Regions from separate parts of the Homo sapiens genome. Here region 2 is linked to region 1. A link means that fine-mapping ties the variant in region 1 to the expression of a gene that starts in the linked region. Tissue or cell type: stomach. Region 1 holds a variant in brackets; the other region holds the start of a gene. All regions are shown on one strand. Distances are between the middles of the regions.

Region 1 (8,199 bases):
AGATATTATCATCATCTCTACTCCATCATCACCATCATGATATTCACAGCTATCATCATATCACTAACATTTATTGAGTGTTTACTTGCCAGACACTGCTATAACCATTTACAAGTTTACATTAATCTACCCAAAAACCCTATGATATCGCCATGTTATGGTGCTTTGCCAAAGGTTACTCAGTTCATCCATGAAAGTGCCAGAATTTAATCCCAAATGTTGTCTGAATCCTTGCCATAGTAAAGGCTTCAGGAGCATAGCCTGGGACTTACAGATGATTATGCAGAATCACAAGAATTCCCAGAAGGAGTGCGCTGTTTTCTGCCAGGGCAACAAACTACTGATTGAAGCATTTTTCCTATTCGTATTTAAATATAATGATAGATATGGCTAGATTTAGAACTGCCAATTTGGTGTTCAGTTTATATATGTTCTATGTATTTCTATTCTTTGATTCTTTCTAGGAGTCTCACCTGCATATGCATAGGTAAGTGGTCATCCAGTGAACCCATAGGAGTCCTACCCTCTGCTGATGACCTGTGTATAGATTAGGAAATCATTCAAAATTGCAGCCAGGACTCCAGTCTCCCTTGGCTTTCACTTTTGGCTGGGCTCTCACTGTCTCCCCTTGATATGCAGTTTCACAGTCAGCCAAGAATAGGTGGAGAGTTTATCTCAGCCCTTTATTGTTACCTTACTCCCAGGACCTTCCTGTCAACTTTCTGGCAGGTAATCCTTGCCCCAGTTAGAGCTCTGCCTAGCAAAGCTGTGGGGTTTCTTCATCTGCTCCAACTGAATCCACCACAGTTAGCTGGCAAAGCTGTGCTATTTGTGCCACTGCCCAAAACTGATTCTGTTCCCTCTGGTAGCAAAGCTGTTGATTTTTGCACTAGCTCCAGAATAGATAAACTTTAGTTCTCACTTACCAAACAGAATATAAGAGCATCCCAGGCAAGAATGTTAATAGTCTCGCCAGTTTTTCCCAAAGCTTTAGCAGTTTTTCAAGCATGAAAACTTCTTCGTCTTACCTTGTCAGTTTCCAGTATCCTGAATTCATTGTTTGTGAAAATTTTGTCTAGTTTTATAAGAACTCTCAATCTCTTCAAACTGCCATTCGTAGAAGTCCTAATTTTTATATATTTTTGTTTTAATAATCCATCATCTTCCAAATAAATGCAAAAGTAACTCAAATTAAATGATGAAAAGTAAATCCCTCTTAATGTTCCATACTCTTGAGTTTATATTACCACATTGGTATAATACAGAATTTTAAATTACATTAAAGAGACCATAATTTTAAAATGTGATTATTTGTTCATTGTATGTTTCCACACAGATCTTGAAATACTCTTTGAAGACTTTCATAGTACAGAAGCATGCTAATGGACACTGAAATATCCCCAAAGAAAGTATAGTTTTATAGACTTGCTACTTAGTCAACTTTTATACTTTCATAAAGATGAAGCTGCTTTTTCTTGGAATAGGGCATATCATAAATCTATAGGAGAAATTACTTAGTTAACTATATTTGTTCATATATCAACACTCTCCTTATTCGGACTACTCTAATATTTTATACAATTAGTTTTAAAGGTCTATCCAAATAATTTCAAGCTGGACAATTTTTGCTTTTCCTCTTTTGAAATGGCATGGGCTTCTCTCAGTTTCTCTGCATGGAAGACTTACTTTCAGCAATAAAATATTTTCAAATCATCCACAGAACTTGAAGGAAGTTATAGTAAAGGATAGAGAGTAAGCTGTCACTTGATGCAGCTTTTAATTTTAGGTGTATGAATATATATTTCCATTATATACATATTTTACAATTAATCTATCTAAACTCCTACTAACAGACATATCAATTATTTCAATTTTTCACTATTATGAACCAACAGGTAAACATTCTTAAGAAGGCTCTTAGTGTACCAGAGAGAATACATCTTTAAGATAGATATTGTATTAGTTCATTTTTAATGGTACTGATAAAGACATACCTGAGAATGGGCAATTTACAAAAGAAAGAGGTTTACTGGACTTACACTTCCACATGGTGGAATGCAGGGAGGAGCAAGTCACATCTTACATGGATGGTGGCAGACAAAGAGAGAGCTTGTGCAAAGAAATTCCCATTTTTTAAACCATCAGATCTCATGAGACCCATTCACTATCATGAGAACAGCGTGAGAAAGACCCATCCCCATGATTCAATCATCTCCCACCAGGTCCCTCCCATAGCACATGAGAATTATGGGAGCTGCAAGATGAGATCTGGGTAGGGACCCAGAACCACACCACATCATTCAGTCCCTGGACCCTCCCAAATCTCTTATCTTCACATTTCAAAACCAATCATGCCTTCCCAACAGTCCCCCAAAGTCTTAACTCATTTCAGCATTAACTCAAAAGTCCACAGTCCAAAGTTTCATCAAGACAAGGCAAGTGCCTTCCACTTTTGAGCCTGTAAAATCAAAAACAAGTTAGTACTTCCTAGATACAACGGGGGTATAGGCATTGAGTAAATACAACAACTCCAAATGGGAGAAATTGACCAAAACAAAGGGGCTACAGGCCCCATGCAAGTCCAAAATCCAGCAGGGCAATCAAATCTTAAAGCTCCAAAATGATCTCCTTTGACTCCATATCTCACATCCAGGTCACACTGATACAAGAGGTACGTTCCCATGGTCTTGGGCAGCTCCGCCCCTGTGGCTTTGCAGGGTATAGCCTCCCTAATGGCTGCCTTCACTGGTTGGCACTGAGTGTCTGCAGTTTTTTCCAGGCACATGGTGCAAGCTGTCAGTAGATCTACCATTCTGGGATCTGGAGAATGGTGGCCCTCTTCTCACAGCTCCACTAGGCAGTGCCCCAGTAGGGACTCTGTGTGGAGGCTCTGACCCCACATTTCCCTTCTAGGCTGCCCTAGCAGAGGTTCTCCATGAGCACCTCGCCCCTGCAGCAAACTTCTGCCTGGGCATCCAGGCGTTTCCACACATCTTCTGAAATCTAGGCAGAAGTTCCCAAACCTCAATTCTTGATTTCTGTGCACTTGCAGGCTCAACACCACATGGAAGCTGCCAAGGCTTGAGGCCTGCACCCTCTGAAGCCACGACCCAAGCTCTATGTTAGCCCCTTTCAGCCATGGCTGGAGTGGCTGAGACACAGCACCAAGTCCCTAGGCTGCACACAGCACAGGGACCCTGGGCCTAGCCCACAAAACCACCTTTTCCTCTTAGGCCTCAAGGCCTGTGATGGGAAGGGCTGCTACAAAGGTCTCTGACATGCCCTGGAGACATCTGCCCCACTGTCTTGGTGATTAACATTCAGCTCCTTGTTACTTA[T/C]GCAAATTTCTACAGCTGGCTTGAATTTCTACTCAGAAAATTGAATTTTCTTTTCTATCCCATTGTCAGGCTGCAAATTTTCCAAACTTTTATGTTCCATTTCCCTTTTGAAATTGAATGCCTTTAACAGCACCCAAGTCACCTCTTGAATGCTTTGCTGCTTAGAAATTTCTTCCACCAGATACCCTAAATCATCTCTCTCAAGTTCAAAGTTCCACAGATCTCTAGCACAGGGGCAAAATGCTGCCACTCTCTTTGCTAAAGCATAGCAAGAGTCACCCTTATTCCAGTTCCCAACAAATTTCTCATCTTCATCTGAAACAACCTCCGTCTGGACTTCATTGTCTATATCACTAACAGCATTATAGTCAAAGCCATTCAACAAGTCTCTAGGAAGTTCCAAACTTTCCCACATCTTCCTGCTTTCTGAGCCCTCCAAACTGTTCCTCCATCTGCCCATTACCCAGTTCCAAATTCACTTCCACATTCTCGGGTATCTTATAGCAATGCCACACTACCTCGGTACCAATGTACTGTATTAATCCATTGTCATATTGCTAGCAAGAAATATCTGAGACTGGGTAATTTATCAGGAAAGAGGTTTAACTGACTCACAGTTTTACATGGCTGGGAAGGCCTCAGGAAACTTACAATCACAGTGGAAGGGGAAGAGGCAAATCATCTTACATGGCAGCAGGCGAGAGAGAAAATGTGTGTGCAGCAGGAAATGTCAAACACTTATAAAACCATCAGATTTCGTGAGAACTCACTTGCTATCATGAGAACAGCACGGGGGAAACCACCCTCATGATCCAATCACCTCCCACCAGGTCCCACCCCTGACACACAAGGATTACAGGGATTACAATTCAAGATGAGATTTGGGTGGGGACACAGAGCCTAACCATATCACATGGTATAGCAGCATATGAAAGATTCTAAGTTTTTCACTTTTATCAGATTTATTAAATTTTCCCAATCTTATAGCTATATAAATGAAATCATATGGTTGTTTTAACTTGGATTTCTCTGAATACTAATGAGTTAGAGTATTTTTTCAAATGTTTATTATCATCCCTTAGAGAGAAAAATAAAGAGAAGAAAGAGACAGAGAGACAGAGATGGGATGGGGAGAGAAGGGGATGACAGAGATTTGAAGAATGTCAATTACAATTTAAAAAATTTTTAATGGCACTTTTTATTAAATTATTTTCATTTAGATTTCAATATGTTTAAGTAACCAATTTACTGTATTAGTCTGTTTTTACATTGCTGTAAATAAATATCTTTATATGTTTAAGTAACATATTGAAATCTAAAACAATTAAGATTTAAACTACAAAACAATTAAGTAAACTAAATTACACTTTGAATTTGTTCTTCACATTTAAGATGGCGAGCACTATGCGGTGGTTTCTGACAATGATTTTCCATCAAAAACTGATTCAGAAAATTGCAAGCACTTACTCGAAGGCCAGAAATCCTCCTCATGGTAACCTGGCGGTTTGAATCATGGTGTCCAGACATTTGGTTTGGACCCGGAAACATGAAATCTCGTGTATTTTCGTCATACGTAGACAGTGTTTCACCCACTACAAGAAAGATACCCTATGATTCAAATTATAATAAAATATTCTATTTAGAAACAAAATCATCAAGTATGATATATCTACTGCCTGATGCCTTATTGAAATACCTGTTTTGGGTCATGTTTATTTTCTATGAAAGGAAAATTAAAATAAAGATATGTTAAAAATATTAACACATTTTCCTTTTTCAGAAACATACTACAAAAATATGAAGTTGGTCCAACATTTATATGTCAGTTACCATCTCCACATTGGTTTTTGTTTGTTTGTTTTTGAGACAGACTTTTTTTTTTTTGAGATGGAGTTTCACTCTTTTTGCCCAGGCTGGAGTGCAATGGTGCCATCTCAGCTCACTGCAACCTCCACCCCACCCTGGGTTCAAGTGATTCTCCTCCTGCAGCCTCCTGAGTAGCTGGGACTACAGGCATGCGCCACCACACCTAGCTATATATTTTTAGTAGAGATGGGGTTTCAACATGGTGGCCAGGATGGTCTCAATCTCCTGACCTCATGATCTGCCCACCTTGGCCCCACAAAGTGCTGGGATTACAAGCATGAGCCACCGCGCCCAGCCAGCACTCTATTTTTCACATAAAATAAAAATTTGATTAATATAGATGTCATCTATAATCACAGAAATCAATATCAGAAATGAAACTAGCCTCTATATTTTAACTCTGCCTTCTCCAGGGAACTGTAACATTTACTACATAAGTAAGGTTTTATTCTCTTCCCTTCCCTAATAATATGCAACACACAAAAACAATGATAATTAACTACTTTATCAATAAAAATATATAGTTTTAGAAAAATCACAAAAACTTAAAAGTCAATTTTTATGACTGTCACAAAATATTTTAGAATGATAAGTTAGTTTCCATTTTCAATTATTACTATTCAATTTTAGAACAATGTATTAAAGTGACATTTATGACAATCTTTCTGTATATATTATTTTGGTCTACTGACATTTTACACATAGTAGATCAACAATAGAAATCTGACACTGTTCTCAACTTGGGAAGAGGAGGATAGATGAGATTTTTTTTTTGAGACGGAGTCTCGCTCTGTCACCCAGGCTGGAGTGCAATGGCATGATCTTGGCTCACTGCAACCTCTGCCTCCCGGGTTCAAGTGATTCTTCTGTCTCAGCCTCCCGAGTAGTTGGGATTACAGATGCCCACCACCACACCTGGATAATTTTTCTATTTTTAGTAGAGACGGGGTTTCACCATGTTGGTCAGGCTAGTCTTGAACTCCTGACCTCAGGTGATCCGCCTGCCTCAGCCTCCCAAAGTGCTGGGATTGCAGGCATGAGCCACTATGCCCGGCCTGAAAAGATGAGATTTTGAAGTAAAAAAAAATGTCACTCACATGAGTTCCCAAGTCAATTTACTTTATCAGTATATAATACACTATATTATATCCTTATCAAATAATATAGTATAATCAATATATAATATATTATATATTACATCAATTTATGATATCTTATATTGTATATATTACATCAATATATATTACCTGGTGGAACTAGCTGTATCAACTCGAACACTGCTGTATCATCTAAAAGTTTAAAGAAAAATTTCCTTAAATAAACAAATTAATAACAAAAAAATTACTTAATTTACCATGGGAGTGTCTAAAAGCCAAAGTAATCACTAGGTAGACTACATATATGTTTATATATTAGTATATAATGTACACTTCTTTTTTTTTTTTTGAGACAGGGTCTCACTCTGTCGCCAGGCTGGAGTGCAGTGGCGCAATCTTGGCTCACTGCAACCTCCGCCTCCCGGATTCGAGCAATTCCCCTGCCTCAGCCTCCCGAGTAGCTGGGACTACAGGTATGCGCCACCACGCCCGGATACTTTTTTTTTTTTTTTTTTTTGCATTTTAGTAGAAACGAGGTTTCACCATGTTGGCCAGGATGGTCTCGATCTCCTGACCTTGTGATCCACCCACCTCGGCCTTCCAAAGTGCTGGGATTACAGGTGTGAGCCACCGTGCCCAGCCTAATGTATACTTTTATAAATATAAGTTATGTCTATTTCTTAAGCAGAGTGGTGAGTACAGTGAGATACATTGACTCTTGAACAACTTGAGCGTTAGGGGCACCAACACCTGTGCCATCAAAAATCCATGTATAATTTTTGACTTCCCAGAATCTTAACTTGATAGCCTATTGTTGACCAGAAGCATTACTAGGAACATAGTTGATTAGCATATATTTTATGCTATATGTATTACATACTGTATTCTTACAATAAAGTAAGCTAGAGAAAAGAAAATGTTATTAAGAAAATCCTAAGGATGAGAAAACACATTTATGGTACTGTATTTATTTATACCATAAGTTTATATTGTCTGCTTACAAGATAAATTGTCTGTTTGAAACGGAATGCAACCACAGCTGTAGACCTCTATGTATGGTACATATCAAGCAATTCAACTTTTTCTTGTAATGTCATGAGTTTTCTCTGCTTCTTGAGAGCACTTCCAGCATGACTAGTGAAACTTTGTGTGGGTCGCCTGAACTGATGAATTGCTGGAAGCTCAGTGCGGACAAGTGTGAGAGATTAAAACTCCAGAGAAATCCAATCATTGGGCTCTCAAGTTTTTGTTAAGTTTTACTTCCAGGAGTTCTACTAGGTTCTCACTATAAATACTGGAGAAAAATCCCCTCATATTTCCACCAGCAGGGAGAAGAGAAAAGAAACCATTTTGAAGTACGTCAGAGCATTCCATTCTTAACAAAACCTGACCTCAGGAGAAATTCTTTTTTCTACAGCCTCATCTACTGGGCTCATATCAGAGCCTAACCTATCTGAGAGAAAGAAAATACTTAACTCCAGCCAGCTCTGAACTTGACTTGTAGGAAGAAAATAACCCAACTCCAGCTCCCTCTAGCCTTCTATGTGAGAGAAGGGAAATACCCAACTACAGCCATATCTAGCATTCCACACAGGGGAAGGGAAAAACTCACTGCACCTCCCTCCAGCCATCCTGTCCAAACTAAGAGGGGAAAATCAGAAGCACCGGTGAAGGTCACAATTTAGGGGCATAGGCTCACCAAAAGACTGCAACCTGATCATAGGACTGTAGAACACCTCCCTCTCCTCACACCTTACATTACTAAAAGCTCTTTACCACAGTTCTATTCACTCAGTATAGCTTTCAGCAAATAAGTACATACTAAGTACAAATACTTACATAAGGCATACTACACAGCAAAAAAACAGTTTGAAGAGACTGAACAAGCATCAGACCCA
Region 2 (8,155 bases), 190 kb before region 1:
AATATATATAATGTATAACTTACCATTTTTCAGAATAGAATTCAGTAATATTAAGTACACTCACTGTGTTGAGCAATCATTACCACCATCTATCTCCATAACTCTTCTCATCTTCTCAAATTGAAACTTTGTACCCATTAAACAATAACTCCTAAGCCCTCCTCCACCAAACCCTGGCAGCCACTATTCTACCTTCTGTGTCTATGATTTTGACGACTCTAGGCACCCTATATGAATGGAACCATACAGCATTTGGGTCAAAGACAAATGCTATATGGTTCCATTCATATAGGGTAGATCAGCTCTCAACAAAGGGCATTCTTGAATGGCAGCCAAGAATGTTGTTTCTGTTGCTTAAGTCACCCAGTTTGTGGTCCTTATTATGACAGCCCTAGCTATAGGCTCTAAGGAAAAAAGGCAGCAAGACTGGGCATCAATGATCAAGGACTGTTGCTTATGAGAGGTGAGGGTTTCAATGTGAGCTTTTAATCTAGTAAACTCTCTATTTCTTTTCTTATGTATTTGTTTCTTGCCACTCAAAAATTCTCTTTCATTCAGCATAATGTCAAGGTTCATCTCTGTTGTAGTATGTGTCAGCCCTGAATTCCTTATAAGGCTGAATGATATTCCATTAAATGTTTTGACTACATTTTGTTTATCCCTTCATTTGTTGATGGACATTTGGGTTGTTTGCATCTTTTGGCCATTAAAATTAATGCTGTTATGAACATGGGTGTACAAATATTTCTTTGAATCTCTGTTTTCAATTCTTTTGGATATATGCCCAAAAGTGAAATTGCTAGGTCATAGTAACTCTATTTTTAATCTTTTGAGGAACTACCATACTGTTTTCCATGCAGGCTGCACCATCCTATATTTCTACCCGTGATGCACAAGGTTTCCACTGTCTCCACATCCTCACCAACACTTGTTATTTTCTGTTTTATTGATAATAGTCATCCAAATGGGTACAAAGTGATATTGTATCACAATGATAAATGATTAGTGGTGTTGAACATCTTTTCATATGCATTTTGGCCACCTGTATAACTTCTTTGGAGAATTGTCTATTCAACTCCTTTGCTTATTTTTGAGTAGGATTGTTAGTTTCATTTGTGTTGATTTACTGGAATTCTTCATATATTATAGGTACTAATCCCTTATCAGATGTATGATTTGTAAATATTTTCTCCCATTCCATCGGTTGCCTTTTCACTCTGTTGATAGTGTCCTTTGATGCTCAGAAGTTTTTAATTTTGACGAAGTTCAGTTTATTTATTTTTTCCTTTATTGCCTGTGATTTTGGCATCATCACCAAGAAATTATCTCCAAGTCCAACAACATGAAGATTTTACCCTATGTTTTCTTCTAAGAGCTTTATTTTCTTAGCTCTTGCATTTAAGTCTTCAATCCATCTTGAGTTAATTTTCATATATGGTGCAATGTAAGGGTCCAACTTCTTTCTTTGGCATAGGAATATTCCATTTTCTCAGCATCATTTGTTGAAAATGCTGTCATTTTTCCACTGAGTGGTCTTCACACTCTTGTCAAGAATCATTTGACTGTAACTGTGAGACTTTATTTCTGGGCTCTCTGTTCTATTCCATTGGTTTATATGATTGTCTTTATGCCACTACCACACTGCTTTCACTACTGTAGCTTTGTAGTGAGTTTTGAAATCAGGATGCATGAAACCTCCAACTTTGTTCTTCTTATGTGTAGTATGTCTTTGTGCCTCAGTGGCAACTTCCATTTATTGGCCTGTTATATTTCTATACTTTTTTATGCATGGCTGAAACCATTCCCCTTCCCATAAAGCTTTCTCAGTCTCTCCAACAAAGGACTTCATTGATCCTTCCTCTGGGCTATCCAGCTAAAAGGAAGAAAGGGGTGGACAAAAGTGACCTATTTTGTGTCAAAAGCACCTGTCTTTTGACTGTCTGTATTCCCCACAAGGCATGAACAACTAAAGACATGTGTGCTCCCTGAACAGGGTCAGGGATAGGACAGGCCTCACTTCATGTAGGACTGACAGCATGAGGACATCCTTCACTCTCGGAAGCTCTCTGAGAGAATATTCTGGATAATTGAGGCCTCAGCTTTGAATGCCAACACCTGCCTAAAATGTTTGACCATTTTGCATGAAACTCTTCCTGCCTGGGTTTCATACTCCATGCCTTCTAAATAGAAAACTCATAATGACCACAGTCACCTTTCCTTGATGACTCTGGGTCATCCGTATGTGTGTGAATCTTGGCTGCTACTCAAGAATGCCCTTTGTTGAGAGTTGATCTACCCAGTTTTATAGGTCTGTTTGCCCCGATTTAGTCATCTTTTACATTGTCTTTCCTGGTCTTTCCAGGTTTAATGACCTCTCATGCACCATCAACCCATCAGCTGCCATTCTCCTTGCTGTCCCTGTGTAGCTTTGCCCCCTCTCTTCTAATTTGTTGTGAGTTGGGATATGAATAACAAGACTCTGGCTAAAACAAAAATAAACAGTCTCTGAGTGGGGTCACAAGGCTCACTGATAAGTCAAAGATTTAGGTTTTGGGCATGAGTTTTAGAATGTCTATTCTGGCTGTTTCAAAGCCTTTTTTGCTCCCTTCCTCATGCTCTGTTGGTCTCTGGGCTGCTAATGTGCCTGGTTAGCTTACAGATAAGTCTTAGATGCATTCGAGGAGAGGCTACTATAAACCCAAACCTGCTAGTTTTGGATTAGGTAAGTGTGCAGGGTTTGGGGGTCAGCCTCATGTATCTGTGAGGTAGATGGGAAGACAGAGCATGCAGGCAGCAGAACACTGTCCTAGTCCATCCCTACTGCTACAGCAAAACACCTAAGACCAGGTAATTTATAAAGTACAGGAATTTATTTCTCACAATTCTGGAGGCTGGAAGTCCAAGATCAAAGCCCCAGCAGGTTTGGTGTCTGGTGAGGGCCCAGTCTATGCCTCCAAGACGGCACCTTGTGGCTGTGTCCTCACATGGCAGAAGGTAAAAAGGCAAAAGGGCCTGGCTAGTTCCCTTAGCCCTTTTATAAGGTACTGATCCCACCCATGAGGGAGAAGCCCTCACGGGCTAATCACTCCTAAAGGCCCTACCTCTTAGTACTGTTGCATTGGGGATTCAGTTTCAACATGAATTTTGGAAGCAACACAAGCATCCAAACTATAGCAAACCCCAAGGGCTGGGTGAGGGGGCTCCTTGTGGGGAGCATAGAAAGAAGTACAAGACTCAGCTGTCTTCTCCCTGCGACATTCCTTTTCCCATCTCTGGAAGAGTCATCCGGATCCAGAGCCCTCACTATGGTGTGCTCAGAGGCCTAAGCTCAGACCACTCCTTCCCTGCTCCCTGATTAACACCCAGAGATCTGCCAGCCTCATTCCCCACTGTCCCTGTATCCAGCTCACCCCCAGGGACCACTGGGCACCTGGTCCATCACATTTTCCTGATGTTTCTAATGCTGCCCCTCCTGCATCCCTGTTCGTCTGATAAACTTGCCTTTAAACGTGTATATGAAGGACTCTTCCTCTGGTATCTAATCCTAACAGGTGCTAGATCCCACAGAGCCCTGTCCAGCTGGGGACTATGCTGACCTCTCTCCCAGATCAATATCCCTCTCCTCGGGGCTCAGCCTGGCCAGTGCCTGATGTTCTGGGATAGGAGAACTGGGGAGAGAAGGCCTAGGACCCTGCCTCTCACTTTTCTTTCCACCAAAAGGGGAAAAAAGAGGATCTGGTCCTCACACCCAGCCTTGGGATACTTATAAGATGCTGGGGATAGGGTGTGGGACAGGGCCAGTGAGAGCTGGGGATGGGGTGTGGGACAGGGCCAGTGAGATCTGTTTTCCTGCTGCTCCAGTCTGGGCCCTACAGCAGATGCATGCAGAGTAATATTTGTAAGACTGAAATATTCCAAATGCAGCTACTTTGGAAGGACCATGTGAGCAGATATCTAAGTGCGTGGCATCTGGGCCCCTTGGCTAGATGGTGGTCGATGTTGGTTTCTTTGTGTTAACCCCAAGAACATTCAGTAGCTCAGGGTTTGCAGAGGTTCTCAGGAGCACATCTTAGCCTCATTGGTGGTGTGAGGCAGGCAGGGCACAGGTCACACTGATGAGGACACCCGGGCCCAGAGACATTTAGCAACCTGCCCAAGGGCATCTGTAGTTCAGTGAGAGGTGGAGCTGGGACTGAAATCTAGGCTGCCTGAGTCCCAGAGATGGTCTTCCCTGGACCCAGGGAGCACTGTATCTTTTTCAGGGAAGGCCTCCTGACCACAACCATTTCATCTGTCACAGTACAGAATAGGAAGTATGGGTCAGGCATCAGAAGATGTGAATTCTGGCTCTGCCTTTTCAGAGATGGCCCTGCCTAGTTCCTTGGAATAAATGATGATGTCTTCCCCAGCCTCAGTTTCCTACACTATATAAAAAGAGAAAGCAACATCTAGGTAGGTTGGAATGGGAGTACATGAGGTGGTGGCCACTTTGCTAGGGTCACAGTAGACTCCTCACCTCCTTCCCCTTGTCTTCCTCTCACTAGGTAAAAGACAATTGTATTGAACTCTTAAGAAAATTGGACTCCAGTCCCGGCTCCACCTTTACTTCCCTGGGCCTTGGTTTTCCCACCACACAGGAGTTTGAACACTTTGATTTCTGAAGTCCTTCCCACCTCTGGGGTTCCAATATTCTGCTCCTTTTCTCCTCTTCCTCCTCCCCCTCCTTTCTCCTCCTGCTCATCTGGGGTTAGGGAGATTGCGTGTATGTGTGTGCCTGTGTGTACACATGCATGTATGTGTGTGCACGTAGTGGCAGCAAGGAAGAGGAAGGAAGGAGTCCTGCAGGGGTTGGTGGTGGCAGTTGGGAGAAAAGGAGGCAGGACTGTATGTGCCAGCAGGGCTCAGAGTTTTCTCACCAACTAATGGTGCTTGGGGCAGTTTAATCATTAAAGGAAAGGAATGAAGCCAGGAGCGCCTCAAAGTCCAGCCTGCTGTTGACCAACACTAACAGATGAGCAAGGAGCTGGCAGCAATGGGGCCTGGAGCTTCAGGGGACGGGGTCAGGACTGAGACAGCTCCACACATAGCACTGGACTCCAGAGTTGGTCTGCACGCCTACGACATCAGCGTGGTGGTCATCTACTTTGTCTTCGTCATTGCTGTGGGGATCTGGGTAAGTGGGCCCTGAGGCTGGGGCTAGCAGGGGAGGTAGTAGTGGTCTCTCAGCTTGGGTGGGGCTGTGGAGCTGGGGCAGGGCTAGGCAGAAAGAAGCAGATCATAGAACCATGTGGCTGAGAAGGAAGGGCCTTCAGGAATCAGGCTCCTGATCTCCTCATTTTTAGAAGGGCAGAGAGGGGTGTGGCTGGTCTGAGGTCACACAGAGAGTCAGAGGCAGACCAGGCCCCCGACTCCTGACTCCTCTCTGAGCACCTGCTGCCTTTGGCCCCAACCATCCCTGGTTGCCCTGAGCCTCACTCCTTCCTTCTTCCCACCCCAAGGCCCCCAACTCTGAGAACTCTTGACCCCTGGCCCTACCTCAGTCCTGCATTCGTTAGCATCTTGGCTAAGGTGATTTCTAAATGAGAAGGGGCTCATGTGCTCTCAGGGAAGTGTGCCAGGCTTATTCCAAGGTTCCTCTGTTCTCCATTGTTCCCAGGAGCCTCAGTGCTAGAGGCAGGGGCCAGGCTTTGGGGTCAGGGAAACCTGAGTTCAGGTCCCAGCTGCAACAATGAGAGCCTCATGTCCCTGGGAACATATGAGGCCTATCAGCTTTCTCAGGTGAACAATGAGAATAAGGACTATGCTGTGATCATTCAGCAACAGGACATACTGCAGCACCTGGCACGGTGCCTGGTGCCCGATCAGCAGGCAATAAATGGCTGCTATTATCACCACGCATTCCACAGAAGTGTGAGCACCTTTAGACTCTGCTGTGATTCAAGTCCCAGATGGTCACTTCCTAGGCTGTGGCCAGGTCAGAGACCCTCTCTGAGCCTCAGTTTCCTCATCTATAAAGGGGGGTGAACAGTCCCTGCCTTCTAGTGCTGGTGTGAGGAAGAATTGGGCTAACAGATGGTCACTGGCTCCTGGAAGTGGCCAGCCGAGAAAAGCACCAACTCCTCTGTGACTTTGGACAAATTGCTTCCAATGTTGGGCCTCCATTTTCACATCTGTAAAATGGATCTGTTTTGCTCGTATGGCCTCCAAGAGGATCAGAGCTGACAAGGAAAATACAAGCAAAAGCTTAACAAGCACAAGGCCCCACACATATTTATCACTCCCTCGTGACTGATTATTTTCCCTTAGGGGAAAGTCAGAGAACTGTTGGCTTTTGCATCTGAATAGCTGCTTCAAGTTCATCCTTCCCTACCCACTGCCCTGCCCTCACCCTGTATCTCCAGAGAATATTCCAACAGGCTGCTAACTGACCACCTACTGGTGTAAGACAGGGAGGTCCTGGATGGGGCTCAGTGGCGTGATCTGATTTCAACCCAGGGCAAGGGAAACTCCAAAACAGTACCCATAACTCTACTCAGGGCTCAAAGTCTCACAGTCAAACTGCAGCCCTCTCTGTCCTCCCGCCTCCAGTGTGGGAGCTCAGCTGGGAGCAGGGAGGGGATCAGCTCAGAGAAAGGGTGAGCACTACACATCTAAGGAGGTGATAACAAATCATACTCTGAAAGCGCACTTTGGGGAGGGAAGGATAAGGGGACAAGAGTGCACAATCAATGGCTTCACACACGTGACATCCGTTACCTCCTTTGCTCTTCGCACTGGCCCTGGGAGATGAATGGCGAGGCTCACAGAGAAAGTGACTCTGCCAAGATACATCGCTTAGAAACTGTGGAACCAGCCTCAGGCAGCTCTCTTCTGCCTCAGTTTTCACCCTCTGTGTCCCCACAGTGCCTGCACCGAGGGGAAGGAAATCTGCGGGGAGGGGGCAGGGCAGAGGTTCAGAGAGTCTTGAGAAATCCTCATCTCATCTATTTCCTTTCCAGTCGTCCATCCGTGCAAGTCGAGGGACCATTGGCGGCTATTTCCTGGCCGGGAGGTCCATGAGCTGGTGGCCAGTGAGTTGACCCTTCTCAACCACCCCTAGTGCAGAGGCTCCCAACTTTCTTCCTCCCCACTATCCAAGCACTTGTCCCATCTTCTCACACCTGGACCAAGGCAAAGACCTCCCCGTTGTGTTTCCTGACTCTGGGCCCCTTCTCTCCCGCCCAAACCCGCCCCGCAACCTGAGTGGTCCTGCTAGCACGCACCTTGGACAAACATCCCCTGGCCCCTCCTAGGTGTGGCCCTACATCTGGCACTTGACTTGCAGTGATGAATCTGGAATGTCCCTGTCCTAGAGAAGCTCAGAGCTGAGTGGGGCAGATAGATTCATAAACATCATGCGCACTGCTGAGCCAGAGGGAAGCAGGGGGCACTCACCAGAGCTTGGAAGCCCCTGACCACCAGACAGTGGAGTCAGCTAGGGTTAGGAAAGATTTTGGGGGGAAGGTGACACATAAGCTTAATATTGAAGAACAGTTAAGTTAAGGGAATCACAGAGGTAAAATCCCCAGCAATCTCAGGGAATCGATCCCCAAAACTTTGTGAGCCACAGTTTCTCCCATCAAGCCACACCACATTTCTAAGTTAGGGGAATCACAGAGGTAAAATCCCCAAAAACCTCAGGGAATCGATCCCCAAACCTTCGTGAGCCACAATTTCTCCCATCAAGCCACCTCACATTTCTATTGGTCCTCAAAATTAACTTCCTCCTCCTGGAATGGGATGGAGGGAGGAAAGCCCTGCCTCAAAAATTACCAGTAGAGTCATCAGCCCCAGTGGTAGCTGAAGCAGTATACACACCCAGGCATGCAAAACTCACACACGGCATGTGTGCATACCCACTCCCACATGCACACTCTCACACACTGACACACAACACTCACACTCACATACAAAGGCACCCACACATGTTCATACATGCCCGCACTCATACATGCTTGCAAACTCATGCACACAATCATACTCCTATTCTCACACTCACACCTTCTCTCACGCACTCACACTCTCACTCTCATACACACTGTCACAATCACATACACTCACATGCAGTCTCACACTCATGCTCCTTTACATACTTACACGTGCACACTCAGACTCA

What was found. PIP is the estimated chance that this variant, and not a neighbour inherited with it, causes the effect.
Region 2: SLC5A9 starts here. The variant in region 1 is fine-mapped to the expression of SLC5A9 in stomach (GTEx, PIP above 0.99). The same link has a PIP of 0.9 or more in ileum.

What each region holds. Positions count from the first base shown.
Region 1 is chr1:48,406,659-48,414,857 of GRCh38, forward strand. SPATA6 (spermatogenesis associated 6) reads right to left here. Exons shown (of 13, transcript NM_019073.4): 4 at 6,452-6,493; 5 at 4,806-4,930. Among named protein-coding and RNA genes, the nearest start is that of SPATA6, 61 kb to the right of the region's middle. The variant T/C (reference allele first, on the strand shown) is at 3,339.
Region 2 is chr1:48,217,726-48,225,880 of GRCh38, forward strand. SLC5A9 (solute carrier family 5 member 9) reads left to right here and starts at 4,991. Exons shown (of 14, transcript NM_001011547.3): 1 at 4,991-5,173; 2 at 6,999-7,070. The coding sequence starts at 5,012.